Homo sapiens: one gene and its partners. The protein of the gene in region 2 purifies or fractionates together with the protein of the main gene of each other region. This does not show direct contact. Each region holds a gene or a part of one and is shown on either strand. Other genes may lie near its edges.

The links.
Region 1: the proteins of HAPLN3 (region 2) and RMND5A purify together in Homo sapiens (co-immunoprecipitation; one large-scale study listed by IntAct). This does not show direct contact.
Region 3: the proteins of HAPLN3 (region 2) and DCAF6 purify together in Homo sapiens (co-immunoprecipitation; one large-scale study listed by IntAct). This does not show direct contact.
Region 4: the proteins of HAPLN3 (region 2) and RANBP10 purify together in Homo sapiens (co-immunoprecipitation; one large-scale study listed by IntAct). This does not show direct contact.

Annotation. Positions count from the first base shown.
Region 1 is NC_000002.12:86,726,791-86,730,290, forward strand, and holds part of RMND5A (E3 ubiquitin-protein transferase RMND5A), read left to right. Parts: intron 1-3,500.
Region 2 is NC_000015.10:88,882,045-88,885,544, reverse strand, and holds part of HAPLN3 (hyaluronan and proteoglycan link protein 3 isoform 2 precursor), read left to right. Parts: intron 1-3,500. UniProt on the Homo sapiens protein: May function in hyaluronic acid binding.
Region 3 is NC_000001.11:168,044,683-168,048,182, forward strand, and holds part of DCAF6 (DDB1- and CUL4-associated factor 6), read left to right. Parts: intron 1-217; coding exon 218-545; intron 546-3,500. UniProt on the Homo sapiens protein: Ligand-dependent coactivator of nuclear receptors. Enhance transcriptional activity of the nuclear receptors NR3C1 and AR. May function as a substrate receptor for CUL4-DDB1 E3 ubiquitin-protein ligase complex.
Region 4 is NC_000016.10:67,730,061-67,733,560, reverse strand, and holds part of RANBP10 (ran-binding protein 10), read left to right. Parts: intron 1-1,976; coding exon 1,977-2,089; intron 2,090-3,500. UniProt on the Homo sapiens protein: May act as an adapter protein to couple membrane receptors to intracellular signaling pathways.

The DNA of each region.
Region 1 (3,500 bases), on a different chromosome or scaffold from region 2:
AGGCTGAGGTTAGGGCTAGGCTGGCTCCAGGGGCACCAGGCATGTCATCAGGACTGATCTTGTTCTCTTCTGTCAACTGTTGGCTTTATTTTCAGGGTAGTTTTCTTCACATGGGGTAGAGATGACCAATGGAGCTCAAAAGACAGGAACATGGCCATTTTGTTGGAGATACTCCAGGGAGTACCTTTATTATTCCGTTATGGATCCTTTCCCTGAATCAGTAACTGGGACCAGGGAGTGAGGTCTTCTGGCCACCTTGAGCTGTGCTCACCCCCTCAGGAGGTATATGGCCTTATAATACACTGTTCATCAGGTAAAGAGACAGTTCTAGAAAGGAACACTTAAACCCAGACAGAGTAATATATGTCTATTACAGTGCAACAGCTACATGTTATATCAGTAACATTCTCTGAGATGTTTTCCTGACTAGCCTCGCCTTCTCAGCTTTTGCCTGGCCTCCTAACTATAATGCTCATATAATTCAAGTAGTGAGTTGTTAGTATGACTTAATCTATAGACTAGAGAATACAACTTGGTTCATGTTCCTCTAGAACTTTTTTGAAATTACTTTAATGCTTGACATAGTAAAGTAATTTTCCTAAAGTTATTTTATTTCTAAAGTAGTTTCTAACTCTGGATAATAACATTGGTAAGGAGAAACTTGCCAACACTTCTGTGATACTGTCATACTAGAGCTAATAGAGAAGTTTCTGTTGTTTTCATGTCTTAGTCTCTTAGTCTTTAGGATGATGAAAATGGTGTTTTAGCAAACTGTTCACTTGGAATATTAAAACTAACTTATTTTTATTTAGGGCCCTGCTTCTTCATCTGTAAGGCTTCCAAAATCTTTAAAAATGATCCAAAAATGCAGTTTAGGGAGAAAATTGTGGAGGGCCCTGGCTCTGAGCTATGTGTACTTGGAGACCCGTGGTACTTCCAGGAGATGATGCTCTCTAACTGGACGTTTCCTTGAAAGCTCTGAGAGTAGCAGACACTTCTGGCCATTCTCTTTAGATTAGATGTTAACTCAACCCTTCAGAGAACAAAGACTAGACTGTCTGGCAGGACTCGAGGATTTTGAGAAATACAGTATGCTTTCACCTTATATGGGTGTGGTGATTGTGTGGCTGAGCTCAAAATGGTTGTTTGGGAATGTCGCTTGGAGAGGCCATAGGCTTATATTACCAAGTCTTTCTCCACTTAAGATGGAGGCCTGGATGGTGATTTCGTCTGTTATGGGGGCACAATGTAGTGTCAGGCTGTGTGTTATTTATGATGAGTTTGTTGTATCTGCAGAATTCATATAGGTTTAATTCATCTTATTGATACATGAAGACATTTGGGAGGAGATGAGGAGAGAATCTTTTAAAAGAAACATTATTCATGGCCCTGGTCCTCCAGGAACTTGGAGGCTAATTGAGAAGATGAATCTGTATTTGTGGAATAGTACCTAAAATTTTGACCCTGGGCCCAGGAGGTCTGGGTTTGAATCCTTGCACTGCCAATTTACTGGTTCTACAATCTTTTTTTTTTTTTTTGGAGACAGAGTCTCACTCTGTCACCTAGGCTGGAGTGCAGTGGTGTGTGATCTCAGCTCACTGCAACCTCTGCCTCCAGGGTTCAAGCGATTCTTGTGCTCCCAAGTAGCTGGGATTACAGGTGTGCACAATGCATGGCTAATTTTTGTATTTTTAGTAGTGACGGAGTTTCACTATGTTGGCTAGGCGGATCTTGAACTCCTGGGCTCAAGTAATCCACCCGTCTCAGCCTCCCAAAGTGCTGGGATTACAGGCATGAGCCACCACGCCCGGCCTGATCCTACAATCTTGCTTAGCCAGTTTTTCCTTCAGTAAACTGACATCACAGAGTTATGAGAGTGAAATAAATAATAGACGTGAACTGGCTTTGAAATTTGTAAAACAGGGTAGACGTGTTATTTATAAAGTCTGTGCCTTAAGTGGTGTTAAGCTTTTTTTTTTTTGAGGCTGAGTCTCGCTCTGTCACCCAGGCTGGAGTGCAGTGGCATGATCTTGGCTCACTGCAACCTCTGCCTCCCAAGTTCAAGCGATTCCCCTGCCTCAGCCCCCGAGTAGCTGCGATTACAGGCGCATGCCACCAGGCCTGACTATTTTTTTTTTGTATTTTAGTAGAGACGAGATTTTACCATGTTGGCCAGGATGGTCTCGATCTCTTGACCTCGTAATCTGCCCGCCTTGGCCTCCCAAAGTGCTAGGATTATAGGCGTGAGCCACCACGCCGGGCCCAAGCACTGTTTAATTGAGACATTTTGGGTAATATTTAGGTGTCTTTATTACTGGTTTATGTTAAATACCACTCTGTGTCCAGTGGTCTGCTTAACATTGTAAAGAATGCTTAAAAGGTATAAGAAAGAGTCTTTAAGGAACTTAGAAGTTAGTTGGAGAGACCAGACTCATATTTGAAAGGGGGAAAAAACAAGACCACGGCACACAGTGTATAACAGTGCTTCTGGTGAGTACAGACACCAGTGAAGAGAGAGAGCCCTTAGAAAGAACTGCATGGGAGTAGATGGGCATTATTTCAACTGAACTTTAGATCACCTCATCAGTAGTTATTAATCACCATTTATAGGTAGAACTAAGCAAAATCTTCTAGGAGTTACAAAGAACAAGCATTTTCATCCTCTAAGAACTTTGTGTCCAGTTAGGGAGATGAGACTGGCATTTTTTAACAAACACACAAACAAAAGCAGTGCCCTGTAATGCACGGTTATGTATCTAGGCTAGATGCTACATGAGTGGTGTGGACAAAAAGGGGTGGGATTTGAGACAAGGAGAGACTCTTTTTACCTATGGGAAGTTTTAGTAGCAGAGATTGAATATGGATAGCAGAAAGAGCAGATGGAGTGCCTGGAGGGGAGGATGGCAAGAACAAAGGTGTAGAGGAGTGAGAGGTGAAGGACCAGATTGCAGGGGAAAGGCGATAAGAGCATTAAAATTAAATTGGAATCAGGTTTTGTAAAGCCATGGATACCAGGGAAAGTAGTAGACTGGGAAGATATTGAATTACTTTGGGGTGGGGTGGGGACATTTTGAATAGGGAGGGGACAGGGACACGATCAGAGACCAGTTGTCAGCAGTATTTAGGTTGGTTTGGAGTTGGGAGTGAGGTTTGACTAGAGGCAAGAACGTTAGCTAAGGCTAAGTGTCAACCTAGATTTGATGAAATAGGGACCTGTCTTTGGGTACTGGTGGTAGAAATTTAAAGGGACACATGAAAGGGATTTCTGAGGGAAGGAATGACCAGGAGTTGGTGCACAGATGGAGTCTGGCAGAGTAGGAGAAAAGGGCAGGAAAAACCAAAGGTTAATCCAAGGTTTTAAACATGAATGATGGGTAGATCATTATGGAACCAGGTAGAAAATAGGAAGTTTAGGAGAGGGGAAGGTGGAAATCTGAGTTTGATTTTTTTTTGTTTTTGTTTTTGTTTTTTTGGGGGGTGGGGGAGGGGGGGTCTCATTC
Region 2 (3,500 bases):
CAGAGGTTGCAGTGAGCTGAGATCATACCACTGCACTCCAGCCTGAACGACAAAGTGAGACTCCGTCTCAAAAAAAAAAAAAAAAACACAAAAAACAAAAAATTAGCCGGGTGTGGTGGCGTGCACCTGTAATCCCAGCTACTCAGGAGGCTGAGGCATGAGAATTGCTTGAACCTGGGAGGAGGAGGTTGCAGTAAGCTGAGATCACACCACTGCACTCCAGCCTGGGTGACAGAGTGAGACTCTGCCTCAAAAACAACAACAACAAACTTGTTCCACTTGTTTGTGGAAGGAACGAACCAGATGGCTGGTCTCAGTAATAGCCAGCACCTGCCATGAAGAGCGCACAGCCTGGTTCAGAGACGACACATGAGCCTGCAAGTGCAGTGCTGGGTGTTTCTCACCTTTCCCTCTGCCTTTGAGTAGATGATTGTGCCTGCAGAGGCATTTTCCCTCTTTTGATTAGTCTCCTAGGTCAGCTGTAACAAATTAACACAAACTTGGTGGCTTGAAACAACAGAAATGTATTCTCTCACTGCTTTAGGCACCAGAAATCCAAAATTAGTTTCACTGTGCAGAAATCGAGGTGCGGATAGGACTGTACCTCCTGTGGCTCTTGGGGAGAATCTGTTCTTGCCTTGCCTCTTCCGGTTCTGGTGGCTGCTGGCATTCCTTGGCTGTAGCTGCCTCACTGCAGGCTCTGCCTCCTTGGTCACGTGGTCTTCTCCTCTTTTATATGCAAATCTCCCTCTGCCTCCCTCTAAACAGGTACTTGCGCATTTGCATTTAGGGCCCACCTGGGAAATTCAGGATACCCTCCCCATCTCGACATCCTTAGTTTAACCTCATCTGCAAAGTCCATTTTGCTACATAATTAGGATTTAGGGTATTTTGGGAGGCCATTATTTAGCCCACCACACCCTTTTCCTTCAGAATTTATTTTGTTATACAAGCCCTACTTTATTTATTTATTTATTTATTGAGACAGAGTCTCGCTCTGTCACCTGGGCTGGAGTGCAGTGGCGCGATCTCGGCTCACTGCAAGCTCTGCCTCCTGGGTTCACGCCATTCTCCTGCCTCAGCCTCCCGAGTAGCTGGGACTACAGGCATCCGACACCATGCCTGGCTAATTTTTTGTATTTTTAGTGGAGATGGGGTTTCACCGTGTTAGCCAGGATGGTCTCGATCTCCTGACCGCCTGATCCGCCCGCCTTGGCCTCCCAAAGTGCTGGGATTACAGGCGTGAGCCACCGTGCCCGGCCTACAAGCACTACTTTAATGAGATTTGCGGAATTTAAAAAACTTAAACTTCCTACTCATAGTTTCACTACACTACCAGGCCAACATTTCATTTTTGTCTTTCCCTTTTGTCCCTGAATATGTAAGCAAAGTCATATATAATCCCCCCACCCAGGGGAACCACTGTTAACTTTTTAGGTATCTCTTTCTAGCCTTTTCTTTTTTTTTTTTTTGAGACAGGGTCTCACTCTGTCACACCAGTGCAGTGGTGTGATCTCGGCTCACTGCAACTTCTGCCTCCTGGGCTCAAGAGATCCTTCCACTTTAGCCTCCTGAGTTAGCTGAGACTACAGGCGTGCACCACTGTGCCCAGCTAATTTTTGTATTTTTAGTAGAGATGGGGCTTCACCGTGTTGGCCACGCTAGTCTCGAACTCGTGGCCTCAAGTGATCTGCCCGCCTTGGCCTCCCAAAGTGCTAGGATTACAGGCGTGAGCCACTGCACCTAGCTGAGCCATTCTTTTATGATTTAGAAAACTTTCTCCAACAAAAACCAGCTCATGTCATACATGTGATTTTTGTATTCTCCCTTATCACCTCATAGAATAGAACTCGTTTTCTAAGTCAATGATTGAATGTACATCTACCAGATTATTTTACATGGCTGTATAGTATTTTATCATATGGATGTACATTTTCATTTTATTCAGGTTAAAGCTTCAAAGGTAGTTTACTTAAGAGAGTTGGGAAGAACCAAGGAAGTGGCCCCTAAATGATAGCCCTGCTTCATATTTATTGGACACTTTCTGTGTGCCAGGCATCCTGCCTTACCTGATTTGAACCTTACCACAGCCCTCTGTAGGGACTGTAATTAACCCATTCTACAAATGGGGAAGCTGAGTCTTGACTTCCCTGGATTACACAGCTGGGAAAAGGTGGAACCAAGGGCAAGCCCGAATTGCCTGACTCCAAACCTCTGTACCTACTGCCTCTGCAGAGCAGGACAGCTCTAATCTGAATGAGCCTGAAAGTCCCCTGGAGGCTGGACCCCATTCCCAGAGTCTCTGAGGCACTGGGACCCCACAATGTGCATTTCTGACAAATTCCTGGTGATGCTAATGCTGCTGGCCCGAGGGCCACACTTGGAGACTTCTGCATATGGCAATCTGCTACATTAGGTATAGCTCTTTTTTAGCACGATTCCTCTACAGGGAACCTCCCTGTCTGTCTCCTGCTTACCCATGAGGCTGTCCCCTTGCCTCCACCTTTTTAATTAATTAATTTGTTTTTATTTTGTTTTTGGCAACAGAGTCTTGCTCTCTCACCCAGTTTGGAATGCAGTGGTGCGATCATGACTCACTGCAGCCTTGACTTCTGGGCTGAAACAATACTCCCACCTCAGCCTCCCGAGTAGCTGGGACCACAAGCATCTACCACCATACTCAGCTAGTTTTAAAAATTTTTTTGTAGAGACAGGGTCTCACTTTATTGCCCAGGCTGGTCTCAAACTCCTGGGCTGAAGCGATCCTCCTGTCCTGGCCTCTCAAAGTGTTGGGATTATAAGCGTGAACCACCGTGCCTGGCCCCTGTCCCCACCTTGAGTAAATCAAGCATGTCTTGAAGTCTAGACCCAAGAGAATGAATCAGTGAGGTCCCAACAGGGGCTCCCAAGTTAAAGATGAGGCAGCCTTAGCCTATGAACTTGATTCTTTTGTTGCATGTTGAGTTCTGTGTGTATTTGTAACTCTGAGCCGTGAGCGTAGTCTCCTTTAGAAGTTCTGCCCTTAGCTCAGTAGGCTGCTCCGTATTTGGGAAGAGTTATGGTGGACAGCTGGACCAGAGAGTAAAGCCAGGGCTGTGCTGTCCTCTGGCCAGTGTGGTGGGGAAGGAAACTCCGACGGATCCCTATCAGGGCCACTTGTCCTGGCCATGTACCTCATGTGGGGTGGCTCTTGTTGCCTGCTCCATTGGTTAGATTTTATGCATAGCAAACCACCCAAAACTTAGTGACTTCTTTAGGATGACAGCCATTTGTTTAGCTCATGATTCTGTGGGTCAGCATTTTGGAGTGGGCTCCATTTCTTCAGGTCTTGCGGTTGGGTCTTGCAGATGTGCCTGCCCATGGTGGGCAGGTCAGCTGGGGGCTGGTTGCTGTAGGATGGCCTCAGCTGGGGCGCCCTGTCTCTGTTCTGTGTATTCTCTCATCCTCTAGCAGGCAAGCCTGGCCATGTGCTCATGGTGGCTGGCAAAGTCCTAAAAAAA
Region 3 (3,500 bases), on a different chromosome or scaffold from region 2:
CCTTTAGATAATTGCTTTGTATGGGAAAATAAAAAGCCTTAATCTATGTTAATCTCTCTATAGTTAGAGGCCATGTTCAAGTGTATTGTGGAAGTTTCCTCCCCTTATAGAGGAATTAGACATCATATTAGAATGTGTTTGTGAGCTCCTAAGTTAGGTTAAATAATTAGTATTGCCCACATTACCACCTGTTACATACAACTTTATTTTCTGACAGCACAATCAGATAAGTTCACAGCCAAGCCATTGGATTCCAACTCAGGAGAAAGAAATGACCTCAATCTTGATCGCTCTTGTGGGGTTCCAGAAGAATCTGCTTCATCTGAAAAAGCCAAGGAACCAGAAACTTCAGATCAGACTAGCACTGAGAGTGCTACCAATGAAAATAACACCAATCCTGAGCCTCAGTTCCAAACAGAAGCCACTGGGCCTTCAGCTCATGAAGAAACATCCACCAGGGACTCTGCTCTTCAGGACACAGATGACAGTGATGATGACCCAGTCCTGATCCCAGGTGCAAGGTATCGAGCAGGACCTGGTGATAGGTTGGTAAATTTTTAATTAACATGAACTGTAAAAAATGTATTTCACAAGGATTTGTTTGAAGTCATTGAAGGGAATCTCTCCATTTTTGACAGTTGCTTCCTCTAAGAGTGTCTCATTCATATAAACTTAAAGAAACTTTACAGTTTACTGTAAATGATTTTACGTATTATATTCTTTGAGCACTGTGCATTAATAGGGAAATAAAAAGTCTTCATTCTCCATATCTCTAGCACTGAGGCTTGCTTCTGAATTTACAGATCAAGAGAAAAGAATGTTAAGAATGACCCACAGGTTATTTATGAAGTCAAGGTTATACTTAGCTCTCAGATTATCTTGTAGATATCCAGGCCTTTATCAGTGTTGTTTTGGTTTTAATGTTAATTTTTTCTGCTTTTCTATTGACCCTGGATTAAGGTAGTGTGTTAGTAGTTCTGTTTTTGGGAACACTGTTTTTCTTTGATTTCTACTAAACTTAGTGACTGAATTTAGAAAATGAAAAATTATACCAAATAAATACCATAGCAGCAATAAAAAATTGAATTGCCAACATGTTTTTATAGTTTTTCTATATTTTATGTGATCACAAGGATATATTTTCTTTTGTGGGAGTTAAAATAAATTTTTAAAGTATACTGCATTTCATACTCATGGAAAACTATTTCTATTATTAGTGCTATCATATCTTATTGTAAGTTCTGTCCTCTTTCAGAGAACCTAGTTTTAATCTTAAAATCCTAGTTTACAAAGGAGTGAGATTCTATTTGAAATATTTCACATTTTATATGCTCAATATATTGCTGTTTATAAGATACCCTAAAGTATCTGTCAACTGAAAAATATAATGAAAGATTAATTTACCACTCATAGTCAAGAGCATGATGATGGGTTTGAATACTGGTTTCACCACTTACCAGCAGTGTTTTTTCATTCAAATTACTTAATGACTCTTAAAGATTCAGTTTCTTATCTATAAAATAGGGTTATGATTATCTAAAATTATTGTAAGAATTTTAAAAAAATCTATCAGTCAATCATGATGTGACCTGGCTCATGTTAATAGCACTAATTAAATGATAGCTGTATTAAACAATCAAGATAGTCTATGAGGCCACTTTAATTTTTAAAAGAATTACAGTAAGAATGACTCTAGGGATAAAGACTGAAAGAAGACAGGCAAAAATCCTGAAGAGGATAGCTTGCAGCTCAGGGGAACTGCCTTTTCTTAACTATGAAAGGGTATGTTTCTTTCTTTAGTCATATTTGGGAAATGTTTACTTTGCCATGGCACTTTTTTTGTAGATATGAAGCAAGAATTTCCCATGTTTATACTTAGAGATTAATCAAACATCTTCTCTTTACCTGTACACAGTAATCTTGAGCATTCTTAGTATATATTTTAGGCAAGTAAGACTTAGTTCTATTTCTTTCCATACCCAGAGGGAGTTCCTTAGAATGTCATTACCACTTAATTTATGCAGATGAGGTTAGCAAGCTTAGCACAATTTGAAAATCAAACTGATAATTTCCAAAATCAAACTGATAATTTCCAAAACCCAGGGTTGAGAGCTAGATTCTATAATTAAGCTTGTACATTTATGGCCTTCCATTTATATAAATGAGCTAATGTCTTATTTTTCTACATTTAAGTAGTAGAACATGATACGGAGGTCATAATTGAAAATTAAATTTAAGTGCCCAGTTTCTAGTAATGTTTTTAATGGATATTAGACACTTTGAGAAAGTCATAACTATTTAGCAGCTTCTATGCAGGCTAATTATAACACTTAATACCAAGCCTGCTTTATAGCTGAGGAAACTTAGGTGCTAAGCAAAGGGTTTTGTATATTCTAGAGCTAAGGAGTTTTGTTTTTTGAAACACAGTACTATAACATTAATGAGAAAGGAGGATTTGAGGGAGGGTGGGTCCTAGAGAATACAGAAACTGTAATCTTTCTATAGATCTTTATCATCTTCATAATACTTAGATGATTTATATGTTTTAGGGATTCTTTTAGCATTTAGATCTGTCACAAAGTTGGTTCCCAATAGCCTCATTGACCCAAGGAAACCCAGATGCTGAACTAGACTAGCAGAATCTTTTAGAAGAGAGATAATCAGTGACAACAAACAGCCTGGAACTGATCCCACTTCATGCATATACTCTTGAATTCATACTTTCATGGTTAAATCCAGATTTGAAACCACTCTGGGATCACATTTAGTTCCCTGCTTTTTAAAAATTAAATATTATTTAATATTCTGTACACTCATTTGAGTATTTAGCCTATGTTGGTCCTACATGGTATTTTGTTTTGTAAGATATAGTAGTAAACTTCCTGAAGAGTAACAGAAGAACGATAAAATTCTTATCCTTCAAGAAACTTAATTATTTATGAATAAGAGAGAATACCGAAGCCATTTATAGGAACATAGAAAACATTTAATATATGAAAGTAAATACAATTATATATATATGTGTGTGTGTGTATATATATATAAAAGATGTGTATACTGAGGTAATTAGAAAGTGATTAGAGTAACAATTACATTAATTTTCCTTTGAGATTTGCATTATTTTCTAGCTCTTTACCAAAAATTTGTAAATGGTGTAAATATTTCCTCTGACTTTTATCTAAATCGGTTATTATAATTCTTAACTTTTTTGGCACCATCCTGATTTAATCTTGAACAACTGTAAAAAAGTATACTTTTAATATTTCTGCACCTTTCTAAGGGCTCTTCATCATTGACACTCCTGCCAGTTTATCTTACTTCTCAATTTAGCTGACTTTTATTCTAAAGAGAGAAAGTTTAAGAGATTTTGCTTCTTAAGAACATGAAAAGAATCACTTACCAGCTTGTAATTAGTCCTATGATTTTGGAGAGTTTCTGTTTCCCAAGAGACTAAGGGTTGTGAAGCTCTGTTGTAACAATCATACCATTTGGTTCCTAGA
Region 4 (3,500 bases), on a different chromosome or scaffold from region 2:
AATGGCTATGTTATCACAGAGACAAATTTGTCACAAGCCTTTTGGCTGGCTTCCTCTAGTGGAAGGTCAGGTAATTCCTTCTCTTTTACTTGTGTAGGTAACCCTCTTGTAGATAAAGACTTTTTCATATTTACCCTTGTGTTTATAATAATAATATGGTGTAATAATAATAATTATACTTACTTTACTTTTTTCTGAGTCAGGAGTTTACTCTATTGCCCAGGCGGAGTGCAGTGACACAGTCATGGCTCACTGCAGCATGGACCTCCTGAGCTCAAGCAATTCTTCTACCTCAGTCTCCTGAGTAGCTGGGACTGTAGGCATGCACCACCACACCTGGCTAATTTTTTGTATTTTTTGTGGGGACAGGGTTTCGCCATGTTGCCCAGGTTGGTCTCAAACTTCTGGGCTCAAGTGATTTTCCTGCCTCGGCCTCCCAAAGTGTTGAGATTACAGGCATGAGCCACCACACGCAGCCAATAATTTTTTTTTTTTTTTTTTTTTTTTGAGATGGAGTCTCGCTTTGTCGCCCAGGCTGTAGTGCAGTGGCGCAATCTCGGCTCACTGCAAGCTCCGCCTCCTGGGTTCAAGCCATTCTCCTGCCTCAGCCTCCTGAGTAGCTGGGACTACAGGTGCCCGCCACTACGCCCGGGCGTAATTTTTTTTTGTATTTTTTTAGTAGAGATGGCATTCCACCGCATTAGCCAGGATGGTCTTGATCTCCTGACCTTGTGATCCGCCCGCCTCAGCCTCCCAAAGTGCTGGGATTACAGGCATGAGCCACCACGCCTGGCCATATTTTTAAAGTAGAGATGAGATCTTGCAATGTTGGCCAGGCTGGTCTTGAACTCCTGGCCTCAAGTGATCCTCCCGCCTTGTCCTCCCAAAGTTCTGGGATGACAGTCATGAGCCATCACGCCCAGCTGATAATTATTATTTATACTATAATATTATGTAATATATCATTTCATAATAAGAAGTCTTATTTATGGACTTCTTCCTGCCAGGTACTTTATGTGTATTATCTCATTTACCCCTTAAAGCTTGAGGGAACACACACCCAAACTTCTGTGCCTTCCACCTGACAACCCTTCAGACATTTGTGTTTAGAGTTACAGTAATGACATCAGACACATGTACACACCAAGGTATTCACTCCTGTACACATCAGATTTGAGGGTTCAGCCTCTGCTTTATATGTGTACACACATGTGCCACTGTTCAGCCAGCTTCTGCTGGGGTTAAATGGCTACAGGGAGTCAGACTTCTCCAGACCATTTCCCAATGACTGTGTTCCCATTGGCCCTGCTGCTGCCTATCTCTGCCTGGCAAAATCAGCCTGATTGCTTGGCTTCTTGGGCCCCTGATTTGTGGTGTATCATGGTGTAACTCTGGGTTGTGAGTTAGCTTCCCATCACTCACTCACTAGAGCTGGAACTGCTGAGGGCAGGTTCACCTGGAGGGCTGAAATGCTTCTCTCAGGTACATGGCACAGCCTGCAGAGGGGCTCCTGTGTCTGTAGAAGGTGTGCATGTGGCATGCATCCTGTCTGGAAATCTGCCAGATTACCTGGCTAGCTGCAGTTTCGGGAAGCTATCAGTGAGACTATTGGCCTCTTAGGCTTGCTGCATTTCCCAAAGAGGCAGCCACCTGTGAGGAGTGTGCCTGTGTGTGTACTTCTGTTATCATACTCGCTTACTTGTGGGCAGCATGTCTCAGATAAACTGCAGCCACTCCTCTGAACTGTGGGCACAGATGTGGTGACCAGCCCCTCCGAAGCCTGACTTCATGACCGTGGGGCACCATGGGGGAAGTTTTCATTTTGTTTCAGCCCCTTTATTCTCATTCTGTGGAGGTTACACCTCCAGGACGTGTTTAGGGAGACCTCTGGGGGAGGTAATCTGTCCTGAGTCCATTGGGTAGTCAGTGAGAAGTGCAGTTCTTGAGTGTCACCTGAAGCTCTTCCTTTCTTCTAGCATGGTTTCATCTTACCTCGTGCATCATGGGTATTGTGCCACAGCCACGGCTTTTGCTCGAATGACTGAAACCCCGATTCAGGAAGAACAGGCGTCCATAAAGAACAGACAAAGTAAGGTTTATTCTACTTTCCCCTTTCCCTTCCTCACCTGTCCCTAACTCTGCTCTCTGGCTCATGTCAACCCTGGTTAACCTGTCAGGAGTCCATTCAGCTCTGGTCCTCATGACCAGCTTGCAGCTCGAGGCCATGTTCCTGTCCCACCTTCAAGATGGCACTGCCCAGATGGACAGTTGGCAGGATGGAGACGTCTCAGGGCAGCCTCCCTAATGCACATTCTGAAGGCTGGGCGCAGGCCAGGCCCTGGCATGGCTGGTTCCATTCCTCCATTTCCTCCCTGCTTGTTTCCTTCCCCCTGAATCCTGGATTCCTCTCAACCTCCTGTTCATGGTCTTCCAGGAAGGCTGTTTGCCTGCCTTAGTAGTTCTGCTTATTCCTAGCCAGAGAGGGGACTGAAGTGGTCAGATAGGGCAAAGCCAGTGCTCAATGGCTGCTGTGGGGGCACTACCCTCTGCTCCCCACCACTGGTCCTGCCCTTTGCAGACAACCTAAAGTCCTCCCTTGGCCAGAGCTCTCCCAGTGTTGATGCTGGCCTGGATGCTGTGTGTCTGGAGGCTCTTTCACGGAAGGAGGGGTGTTGGAAAAGAGGAAAAGGAGCCCAGTGAGGAGCTAGAAGGAGAAAAGGAGAATGAGGGCAAGTGGGTGTGGATATGCGTGTCTGTGAGTGCCTGCCTACCCCTCTCCAAGCCTGCTGTCTCTTCTGTATGTGCACGTGTCTGTCTCCCAGAGAAGCTGTGCTCAGCCAGACAGACGGAAAGGGATCCCAGACTTGGGATCTATGAATGAGAGCCTCAGACTCTGAAGTTGCTCCCAGCGAGATGCACCAGGCCCCACGGCAAGAGCGAAAAGGCAGCAGCAAGATGCTGATGGCGTGAGAGGTGTCAACATCAGAGGTGCCAGCATGAGGAGGATGGCCTCCTCTCCCAGCAGGGGGCATGCTGCAGCCCCTGAAGACCACCAGCCAGAGCCCTGGTCAGAAACCAGTGTGATTCCATTGCCATTCCCCTGTGAGGCCTGGAAGGAGAGGAGTCTGTCTGAAGAGGAGCCACTCAGGCCGCCAAGCTGCCTGGGTGCCCATCCCCAGATCATGTTGCCCCAGCTGGGGCCCTACCCTGCCCCCAGGTCCCTGGCACCATGTGCCCCGCAGGAGCAGACCTCCACATTTACCCTCCTGCCTTTGGGCTGAGAGTCTCCCCTCCATCTTCCCCATATTCTTGAGGACTCTCTGACACTTGGCAGAAACCAGGATCTGTTGGGCTGGGCAGTCAGGTTCTTTCTCCAGCCTCCTCTCCTGTGAGCATTTCAAGCTGGCGAGGCACTCTGAGCCGGACCCTACCCTGAGGCTGGCAGCATCCCAGGTGTGTGGCTGTGGGAGAGGCCTGTAGCCCTCGCTCACTGCTGTGTT